Homo sapiens: one gene and its partner. The protein of the gene in region 1 interacts with the protein of each later gene in a biochemical or structural test. Each region holds a gene or a part of one and is shown in the gene's direction. Other genes may lie near its edges.

The links.
Region 2: the proteins of UBXN2B (region 1) and PPP1R3A form a complex in vitro, tested with the Homo sapiens proteins (one study listed by BioGRID).

What each region holds. Positions count from the first base shown.
Region 1 is NC_000008.11:58,449,315-58,452,271, forward strand, and holds the end of UBXN2B (UBX domain-containing protein 2B), read left to right. Parts: 3' UTR 1-2,187; downstream 2,188-2,957. UniProt on the Homo sapiens protein: Adapter protein required for Golgi and endoplasmic reticulum biogenesis. Involved in Golgi and endoplasmic reticulum maintenance during interphase and in their reassembly at the end of mitosis.
Region 2 is NC_000007.14:113,915,900-113,923,310, reverse strand, and holds the start of PPP1R3A (protein phosphatase 1 regulatory subunit 3A), read left to right. Parts: upstream 1-4,301; 5' UTR 4,302-4,314; coding exon 4,315-5,096; intron 5,097-7,411. UniProt on the Homo sapiens protein: Seems to act as a glycogen-targeting subunit for PP1. PP1 is essential for cell division, and participates in the regulation of glycogen metabolism, muscle contractility and protein synthesis.

The sequences.
Region 1 (2,957 bases):
CTCCACTCCTGTGTTAAAGATTCAGATTCATCACAAATAAATTTACATCACTCATAGGTGCTCAAAAGTCACAATCCATTATTACAGCATCAACTCTAAATCCAAAATCTTATCTGAGTCTCACCAACTCAAAAGTCTCAAATCTCACATTGAAGCCATCTAAATTAAGTTTGGGAGAGGATCTGTGTGTGATTTCTGGGACATAATTCCAACTGTGCACTTGTGAACCTAGAAAACAAGTTATCTGTTCCCAAGTATGATGGCATGACAGGCAGACAATAATAGTTACACACGTTCCTGTTCAAAAAGCAGAAACAGATGGAAAAAGGAGCCATCAGCACCAATCAATTTACAAAACCAGCGAGGCACCCTTCTTTAAGTTTCAAGGCCTGGGAGTAATCTTCAGCTCACTGCTGTTCTCTGGGCTTGTTGACTGTCTCAGAGTCATCTTTACTTTTTCACAAAAGGTAGCACACGTTTGCAGCTGAGTATCAACTTATCAGTTTGTTCTTCTTTTATATTCTCTAAAGCTTTCTGTTAAAAATGGTGGTGCTTCTGCTGCTATAACGTTGTCAAGAAACTTGTGGGTCTTTTACATATGTCACAGGGATGCACTCATTTAGATAGGAGGCTCCTCACGTATCTTTCCTGGAAAATCCTGTCTCTGTTTTTGGCTTTTTCTGAAATAGCTGAGAGGATCTATGATTCACACCCTTAATATCTTCAAAGAGTCTTGTGTGTGACCTGATATTCAGACCTTTTGATGTTTCTGAAGTATTAGCAAAAGGTTATACAGCCATATCTTCATCACTTTCTCTAGAGTAAAGGCTGTCCTGACGGTGAATCTTAGTTTTAGTGGCTTTTGCCATTTGAATAGGCCGCGAATTTCCCAAATCATCAAGTCCTGGTTTCTTTATATTTAACAGGTCTTCCCTCAATCTACCTCTTTCCACATTTTACTATAATCAGCAAGAAGACAGCAGGCTGTACCTTCCACAGCTTGCTTGGAAATATCCTCAGCTAAATATTGAAGTCATCACTTAAAAGTTCTGCTTTACACATAACGGCAGGACACAACTCAGCTTAGCTTTTCGCCACTATGTAACAAGGACTCCTTTCCTCCACTTCTCCAGTAACATATTCCTCATTTTTTACCAACAGTCTATTCATGATGATTTAGATATTCTATGGCAATCGAGGTATTCTCTATTATGCTCCTTTCTTCAAGGCCGCCCTAGCATTAACATTCCATATTTCTACTAACAGTCTGTTTAAGGCAGTTTAGCTTCTTTTCTGGCATGCTCCTCAGAATTCTTCCAGCCTCCACCTACTGCCCAATTCCAGAGCCACTTTTCTACTTTTAGGTATTTGTTACAGCAGCACCTCAAGTACCTAGAAAACTCTTTTATGCCTGCTTCTCTGCCAGATGACTTGAATATGGTACTAGATTTGGAATTCACCTTTCTCCAGGGTCACTGTTTATTTCAAAGAGGTGAATTTACCTGTGCTAGGGTTTTCACACTGGGAGTGCTACCAGAACTACCACAGGATGAAAGTGGTGAGCCCACCACTGCAGAGAAGTTTTCTCAGTGCCGTAATATAGAGGAATTCTCAAAATAAGCCCTACTCCTTTTCACTTACTGAAAACAACTTGGATAATGTGTAACAGCCAGCCCCATTTCAAAAAGATTACCAGGGGTAAAACAACTTTTTCATGGGTCAAAATCATCTTCCGAAGAAAATGATTTCTTAAAAGAATTGAACATTGTAAATCAAAGGGCATTGTCCTGTTTTGGATTAACAAAACAGGAAAAATAACCAATCCTTGTAAAATTATTTGAAATTTTCTTGTTTTTATCAGTTGAGTGCCTATAGATGCACATACAAAAACAACTGCCATTTTTGTATATAATAGTCTTCCAAGATAGAGATTTACATTAGGAGAGAATTAAACATCCAGGAGGGATGAACAGTATTTCATGTGTGCTATGTAGTGTTTTGCTTCATTGAGAGTCATTTTCATGAATTATTTTTACTACTGCAGTCATCTTAAATTTATAATCATCTCAAAAAAGATGTCACAATGAACAGACAACCATCTGTGAGGTCAGTCATTTTGCATGATGTATGTAATCAAAAAGTTTGAAATGTCTGCTTACTAATAAAGAATGTTTTCACTGAAACTTATTGGAAAGGTTTTTCAAATTTTCTTTGATTTGTAGTTTTGAGTCCTGAATAGATTGTTTTAACATGAATAACATTTCCTGTGGTTTAATTTCCCTTGGCGCACCTTTGTCAGGGACAGGGAAGGAACTGGTTGTAGCATATTATCTGAATATCCTGTTACTGTTTCTGTTTTTATTCTACCCAAATAAAAAGGTTCAGGTGCTTCTTTTTTGCCACAATGGATTTCTGAAAACCTTGTCACAACTGTGAAAGGAAAGCAAATCTTGGGACCCCAGAATCACTAAGCTAAAGGGAAAAGTCAAGCTGGAAACTGCTTAGTGCAAACCTGCCTCCCATTCATTCTATTCAGTTATCTCTGCTCACTGAGATAAAGGCCTGTCTGATTGCCTCCTTTGGAAGGGCTCATCAGAAACTCAAAAGAATGCAACCATTTGTCTCTTACCTACCTGTGCCCTGGAAGTCCTCTCCCACACTTCGAGTTGTCCTACCTTTCCATATTGATCCAATGTCCATCTTACATATATTGATTGATGTCTTATGTCTCCCTAAAATGTATAAAACCAAGCTGTGCCCCAACCACCTTGGGCTCATGTCATCAGGACGTCCTGAGGCTGTGTCACACCTGTGCATCCTTAACCTTGGCAAAATAAACTTCCTAAATCGAGACCTGTCTCAGGTATTTGGGGTTCATGCAACGTCTATTGTTAAAAAGTGCATCATGTTGAAGCGGCCTTGTCTGGGGCGACACCCGAGGTTCGTTGTCTCACAGC
Region 2 (7,411 bases), on another chromosome or scaffold:
CTTAAGTCCCTGACTATGGCAGACAGACTAGGAGATCATGCATTTTTTTTTTTTTTTGACACCTAGTTTCACTTTGTCTCCAGGCTGGAGGGCAATGGCTCAATCTCGGCTCACTGCAACATCCGCCTCCTGGATTCAAGCAATTCTCCTGCCTCAGCCTCCCGAGTAGCTGGGACTACAGGTGCACACCACCATGCCCAGCTAATTTTTGTATTTTTGGTACAGACGGGGTTTCACCATGTTGGCCAGGATGGTCTCGATCTCTTGACCTTGTGATCCACCCGCCTTGGCCTCCCAAAGTGCTGGGATTACAGGCATGAGCCATTGCGCCCAGCCGGAGATCACGCATCTTAACCAAGTCTATATATCAGAATCACTTGTGAACCATCATCCTCTTGGAAAATCTTATTTGAACATCTCTCCCAGTGATTTTTGACATCTATCTCTGGTTTTAAAGACTACAGTTCTAGACTGTCTCTTGACAAAACGTTTCTTTGGGTTGCAAAAATCTATGCTAACATGGGAAACAAATGCAAAATCATAATTAATTTCAAAATAGATCATTTCTTTCCTACCCATTTGTGGATAAACACAATCTCTCTTATTTTTGATTCTCACTGGATCAGAGCTGATCAGACCTTAGATATTTAACTTTTTTTCTTGAACCCATGACAGTAGAAGATCAGGTAATAGAAACTCAGTTGGCATTGAGATACAGTATGTATAAATAAAGAGGAACACACATATGTATTTTAAGTTATATATGTATATATGTTATATACATATTTGCATATATTTCATACCTCATATCTTCTGTTTGCTCCTCCAAATCCACTTGCCACCCTTTCCACCATTTTCCTCCCTGTTTTCTGCTGCGGGAGACTGACCTGAATGAACTATAATAGTTCCCATGCCCTCTGGCCAATAGGTAGCTCTGGTAGGACATCATAAAAAGGGAGAAGAATGAATTCAGTTTATTATGCTCCCGGATCACTCCTGGCAAAGTCGTCTTCAACTGGCTGTGTCCTTTGACCAGGTCTCCAGTTGGTAAGCTCTTTATGGCACGCTTTGCTTTCAAGTTCTGATAAGTGTTCCCTTCCCTTATCCCTTGAAGGATGGTAAAAGCTCTGATGCAATTGACCCCAGTTTGTCACACTAGTTCTTGTGGCTTCTCTGCCTTTACACTTTATAAATAGACCCTTGTAAATAAATCCTCCTGAAATTATCTTATTTGAGCATGCCATCTATTTCCTATTTACTGGGTTCCTGACTGATACTGTTTTTTATGTTAATGGTGCCTTTGAGAATATTTGATTAATACCAAAAATTATGGAATGCATGGAGACTTGAGCTTTAGTTTGTAAAAAAAAAAAAAAAAAAAAAAAAGAAGGAAAGAAAAAGCTTTAATTCTTCTAAAAACAGTATACCTTAGCAGCTGAAGAAGAGTGTGATAAATTGTGTTGAAATTGAGGTAGTGGTGGATATGAGAAAATGGGACATTGGTCTGATCTGTGATATGGAAATAAAGCAAGGAAATGTGAATTTTAACTGAATGCAAACACCAAGTCACAAGGCTGAGGCTGTTAGTATTTCTTTTCATGCTCCAGAGACACTTGATCTATAATATTGCATTCATCTGGGGGCAGCTCATTAACAGAAAAATACAGGCAAGCTGGAAGGAGTTCATAGAGGAGTAACAAAATGGTAAAAAGCACTGGAGGATTGACATGTGGGAAGAGATTAAAAAGATGAAATCACTCTGCTTTAGCTAAGTGGTGACTAAGGGGGAACATGTCAACTGTCTACAATTATGTGAAGGTTATAAATTCCAAAAGAAAGGCAGTGATTACTACAAATCAAGGTAGTGCTCTGTGTAAAGAGACACATTAACAAGGGAAAAGTTTAGATCAAATAACAGGACCATTTTCTAATGTAGAGCTATATTATGTCTTATAAAGCTAAGTGTTACACACTATAGCCTTTGAAAAAGACAAAAATGAAACAAATTACAAATCATTTCTTAATGATATATATGAATTCTCTGTAGCTAGATAGATTACATATCTATCCATCTATCTGTTGATATACCTTAGAAATCAGCCTTTTACAAACATATATCGGAATTGAAATAGTGACTGGTGCTATTACTATAGGTTTTGTGCTAGACATTTAACAAGAATCTTGTTTAATTTTAAACATTGTACTTTGACAATTAAGGCAACTGTGGGTTAGAACATCTGAGTAACATTCGGAAGGTCATCCAGCTAGTAAGCAGCAGAGCCAGGAAATGGACCCAGGGGTCTTCATTTCCATTCCTTTGCTAACTAACTCCTGGATAGTTAAAATATTTCAGTACATTATTATATCTTAAATTTTCATTATCCCATTATTTACATGGCTATATGAACTATTTTACTAATTTCCATAAAGCATTTTGTTGCTGATTTCCTTGACTACATAGCAATGTATTTCAGGTACCTTGAAATATAGCTACTTGTAGTCATCAAATCTGAAAGGCACAGACATTTCCGCAGCCATTACCCATTCTTGAGCAATCCATGTGGTCACCACCCATTCTAGCTATGTGGATGAGATAAAGCTCAAATAATTTCATTTCTTTATCCTTCTAGACACTAGTCACTTATAATTTTAGAAAATAATTTCTCCATCCACTACTTTATGCAATTCAAATTACCTAATAAGTTATACCATATTAATGAGGTTTTCATTTGAAAGAAATTATGCTATTGGGCTCTTTATAAAAAGAAAAACTAATCACCTTTCACACTTCGTATATTTTTTCAGTTTAATTAATAGATATTTTGAAAGAAAACCATGCTCATGTATAATATTTCAAACAGTACAGCAGACCATAAAGTAAAATGAATAGAGCCCCCATTCCTCTGCCATCTTTAAATTCTGTGGTTAGAAGTAAATACTGCTAACATTGTCTTTTGTATCCTTTCAGGAGTTTTCTATGTACATATCTGTACACATTTTCTTTTTTATCACTTAGCCATTTATCTTGGTTATCTTTCCATATTAGCACATAAAGTGCTACTTTATCCTTCTAAAACATTCTATTGTATGGGTTATTTATCCAATGCTCTTTCGAGAGGGACATTTAACAGGTTTGTAGAGACTGTTAAACGCACAATTCTGTTATGAACATAGATCTCTATTTATCTTTGTATACTTTCCCATACTGACAGAGCAAATTTCTAGCTGGGGCATTTCTCGGTCAAATTGTGTGCAGTTAAATTTTTATAGGTTTTTACCAAAATGACCATCCCCCAACTTGGGTTTTATGACATAAAAAAAACGTGACAGTTTAAGCAGGCTGTTCATACTTTAAAACTCATATTGAATTTCAAGGTGTGATGGTATCAACTTCTGCTTTGTGGGCATAAAATGGCCATTTGCAAAAGAACATTTTATTCTACGTAGATGTATTAGTCCTGGATCAGGCTTACCTTTGCCCACTTATATTTGTAAATCAATAACATGTCTTATCTGTATTTTCCCATGGCTTAATTAAAATAAATGTACTAATGTTTAAAATAATGAATTTGATTACTTCTTTGTTCTAGGCTTTTGCTTGGGTTATTTCTTCTACCTGGACAATCTGCCTTGCTCCAACCTTGCATGTCTAAATTCCACCTACCCTTCATGCTTTATTTAAAATGATACCTTCCCCATCTGAATCATGTTTCCTTCCTCAGAACTTTCAGCACCTCTATTTAACCCTTTTGTAATAAAGCTATACATTTATAAATCCCTGAAAATGATAGCTGTCATTATTAGTAGGCTCTGGATCTCTTCAGTTCTATAAATGTTCTTATCTTTCCCTGTTTGCACTTACCTGCTCCATGGATTAATTTAGTCCAAACTACATATTCAGTATTGTGATACTACTTTTATTTTATTTAAAAAAAATCCACATTTTCATTTTTAACATCAACTAATTAAAATAATATTTTTATCCTAAAGTTCCAGGATTTCCAATACAGCAGAACATGATTTAAAAATATCTGTTTGGAACTTAGCTCATAAACAAATACAGCTTTAAAAACTGCCAGTTAAATCTGAAACATACTGGTGGGAGTAGCATGGATGCTATCATATGCAAGGCCTTTAGGGGGAGGCTAGCAGGGTTGCAGGCTAGCATAGTTGACACGCCATTGGACCTATTTATAGAGCTGAGTTCTTTTTGCAATGTCAACTGTAACATTATACCTATTTTAAGCCTCAGTATCTCAAATGTCAGCCTCTACTAGTCGTACAGTTCTCTCTTATTTGATATCAGAGAGCCCAATGGAGCCTTCTGAAGTACCTAGTCAGATTAGCAAAGATAATTTTTTAGAAGTTCCTAATTTATCTGACTCTCTTTGTGAAGATGAAGAAGTTACTTTCCAACCTGGTTTCTCCCCTCAACCAAGTAGACGAGGTTCTGATTCTTCTGAAGACATATACCTGGATACCCCATCTTCAGGTACTAGAAGAGTTTCATTTGCTGATTCCTTTGGATTCAATCTTGTGTCTGTTAAAGAATTTGATTGCTGGGAATTACCGAGTGCTTCAACCACTTTTGACTTAGGGACGGACATTTTCCACACAGAAGAATATGTTTTAGCCCCACTGTTTGACTTGCCTTCTTCAAAAGAAGATCTTATGCAACAACTCCAAATACAGAAAGCAATACTGGAGTCAACTGAGTCTCTTCTTGGGTCTACAAGTATCAAGGGTATTATTCGAGTTTTGAATGTTTCTTTTGAGAAGTTAGTATATGTAAGAATGTCTTTAGATGACTGGCAGACACATTATGACATTTTAGCAGAATATGTTCCTAATTCATGTGATGGTGAAACTGACCAGTTCTCCTTTAAGATTGTATTGGTTCCTCCTTATCAAAAAGATGGCAGTAAAGTTGAGTTTTGTATACGTTATGAAACTTCTGTTGGTACATTTTGGTCAAATAATAATGGCACAAATTATACATTCATTTGTCAAAAGAAAGAACAAGAGCCGGAGCCTGTAAAACCATGGAAAGAAGTTCCTAACAGACAAATAAAAGGCTGCTTAAAGGTAAAATCAAGGTGAGGATATATCTTACATATTTTATTATTCACAATCTTAAAGTTTTTATGTCATTCTTTATTTCATGTGTTGTAAGAAAGTGACTCTATTTAAAAATATACTGCTTGCTATGTAAAAAACAATGGTGCCAGGCTTTAACAAGGTCAAAGCTATTCAAATAATAGCACTGTGTAACCCTTTCTACAAATGTGAGAAAAAATATGGCTGTAATGCAATAGGTTGGGAGAGAAGTGCACTGTGTATATTACTTGCCTAATGAGTTATAAATTATTCCTGCTCAAACCATGAAATCTAGATTATTCACATATAAAATTATTTACTTTGACATTTAAAGTACTTTTATTTTCAGTCGTTTTTAAATGTCTATGCTTTCCTTTGAAACAGTTTTGATTAACATAAAACTATATTTCAATATGTATCTAGTTCTCAGAAATTTGTAAACTTCTCCCAAAAGCTGCAAAGAACTTCTTCATAACTGTTTTGAGTTATACAGGGATGTTTGAAGTGATACATGTTAATTTAAATTATAAAAGAAATGACCTTAATGATTAACAGAAAGACATAAGTATATCAGTGATATATGAGTTACACACAAAATTTCATTAATTATAACCAAGAATAACATTATGGAACACAAATTAGTATAATTTAGTAAAAGTCAATGGAGCAGAACAAAAAATGACCCAAATATAAATAGGGATATTCAGCTATATAGATTAGAGATTTGGGATGTGACCCCTCATTAGTAACCTTACTCTCTTGTTAATGTGAAAAATAAGAAAAACTGGCATTCAGCTGTCTCGATAGTACATAGCTGGCTAATTTCTGTGACACTAGGTAAGTAGAGAAAACATTCAGGAGAAGTGAGACCCCTTCTGCTCCTCAGTATCCCAGAGGGAAAGTCTACATTGCTCCAGCCACAGGCAAATGTTTGATCATCCTCTGAGTGGTCCATCTTAACTGTCCCTAAACCCAAGGATTTTGGTAACTGTACCAGAAATAGTGTAATGTAGGAAATAGGAAATATAGGAAATAGGAAAGGGAACTGTTTTGGAATCAAGACACCCAGATTTAATTCTCTAAGGGGAATTTAATACAAAGCATAAGATACGATATTGGGAAATTTTTTTAAAAATTGTGCTTTAAACGATAAATAATAACTACTAAATGCATTGTTCCAATGTATTAATAAACTAAATGCAGTATAGATGGAAGCAATTCAAACATATATATTATGTTTATTTTCATTTTCCTTTAAAGTCATCTGAAATATTGGCTTAATCAACTTTGTGAATTAGGCCAACTTTCTTGGTCTAAATCAAACTTTCTTTGATTTTAACTGATGCTGTTAGGAAAGAGAGTATAATAATCTCTACATAGGCTAAAATAATAATTTAGATGTTTATGAAATTACTCTAACACATTAGCTACACTAACAAAATAAGTTCAACATTATTTAGCAAACTAATTTATATGCATAATATATACATATTAAATACTTTAGAAATGAGATAAGCATTAGTGAATATCTGTTAAACACACTGCAACTTGCTCTATATGTTAGAGAAACCAAAATTTAGAAAAGGCGCAGCATTATTGTCTAAAAGCTCATAAAAGAGGCAGTGTTGAACTCAGCGGATTTTTCTGCAATTTAATGCAGTTTTAAAATTCAAGCAATACCTGCTGAACTGTGGTTTGGATAGGGGATTCCTTTGATTCCTTTGATATGCCAAACTTGACTGATACCAAGGCAAAGACTAGCCAACTGATAGGCCTCATCTTCTACCTTGGTCATAATATTTTTGGAACTTCTCCTAGTTGAAGATATGTAGAACTATATGTATCCACACATACATTTGTATTCAGAACAGTAATCATTGGATTCACAGCGGACACCATTCAAGTTTTAATATTGCTTTGGGGAAAAACCTGAGAAGAACTAAACCACAAAATGGTCTGAAGGCCTGTAAAGTTTCCTAATGAGTTATAAAAATGGAAAAAATCTCTCTCCCTCAAAACCACAAATACATTTTCTGCACTTCTGTAACTTAAAAATGACCAACATAATTCGAACCACATTTTGAAAAAAGCATTTGCCTCTGGAGGAGGCATTTTGTGCTGAATTTCAGTCCAACATGAATTTTTACATCTGATTTATATACCACTCAAAATGGAGTGTATAAAGGAAATCCTGACAGATCCTTAGAACAGCATGTGCCATAATAGAATATTTATACAGCTTTTCCATGATATAATTTATATGCAATGGGGTTTCAAATATTCCTAAAACTCACACAAGAGAGCATTATCAAAT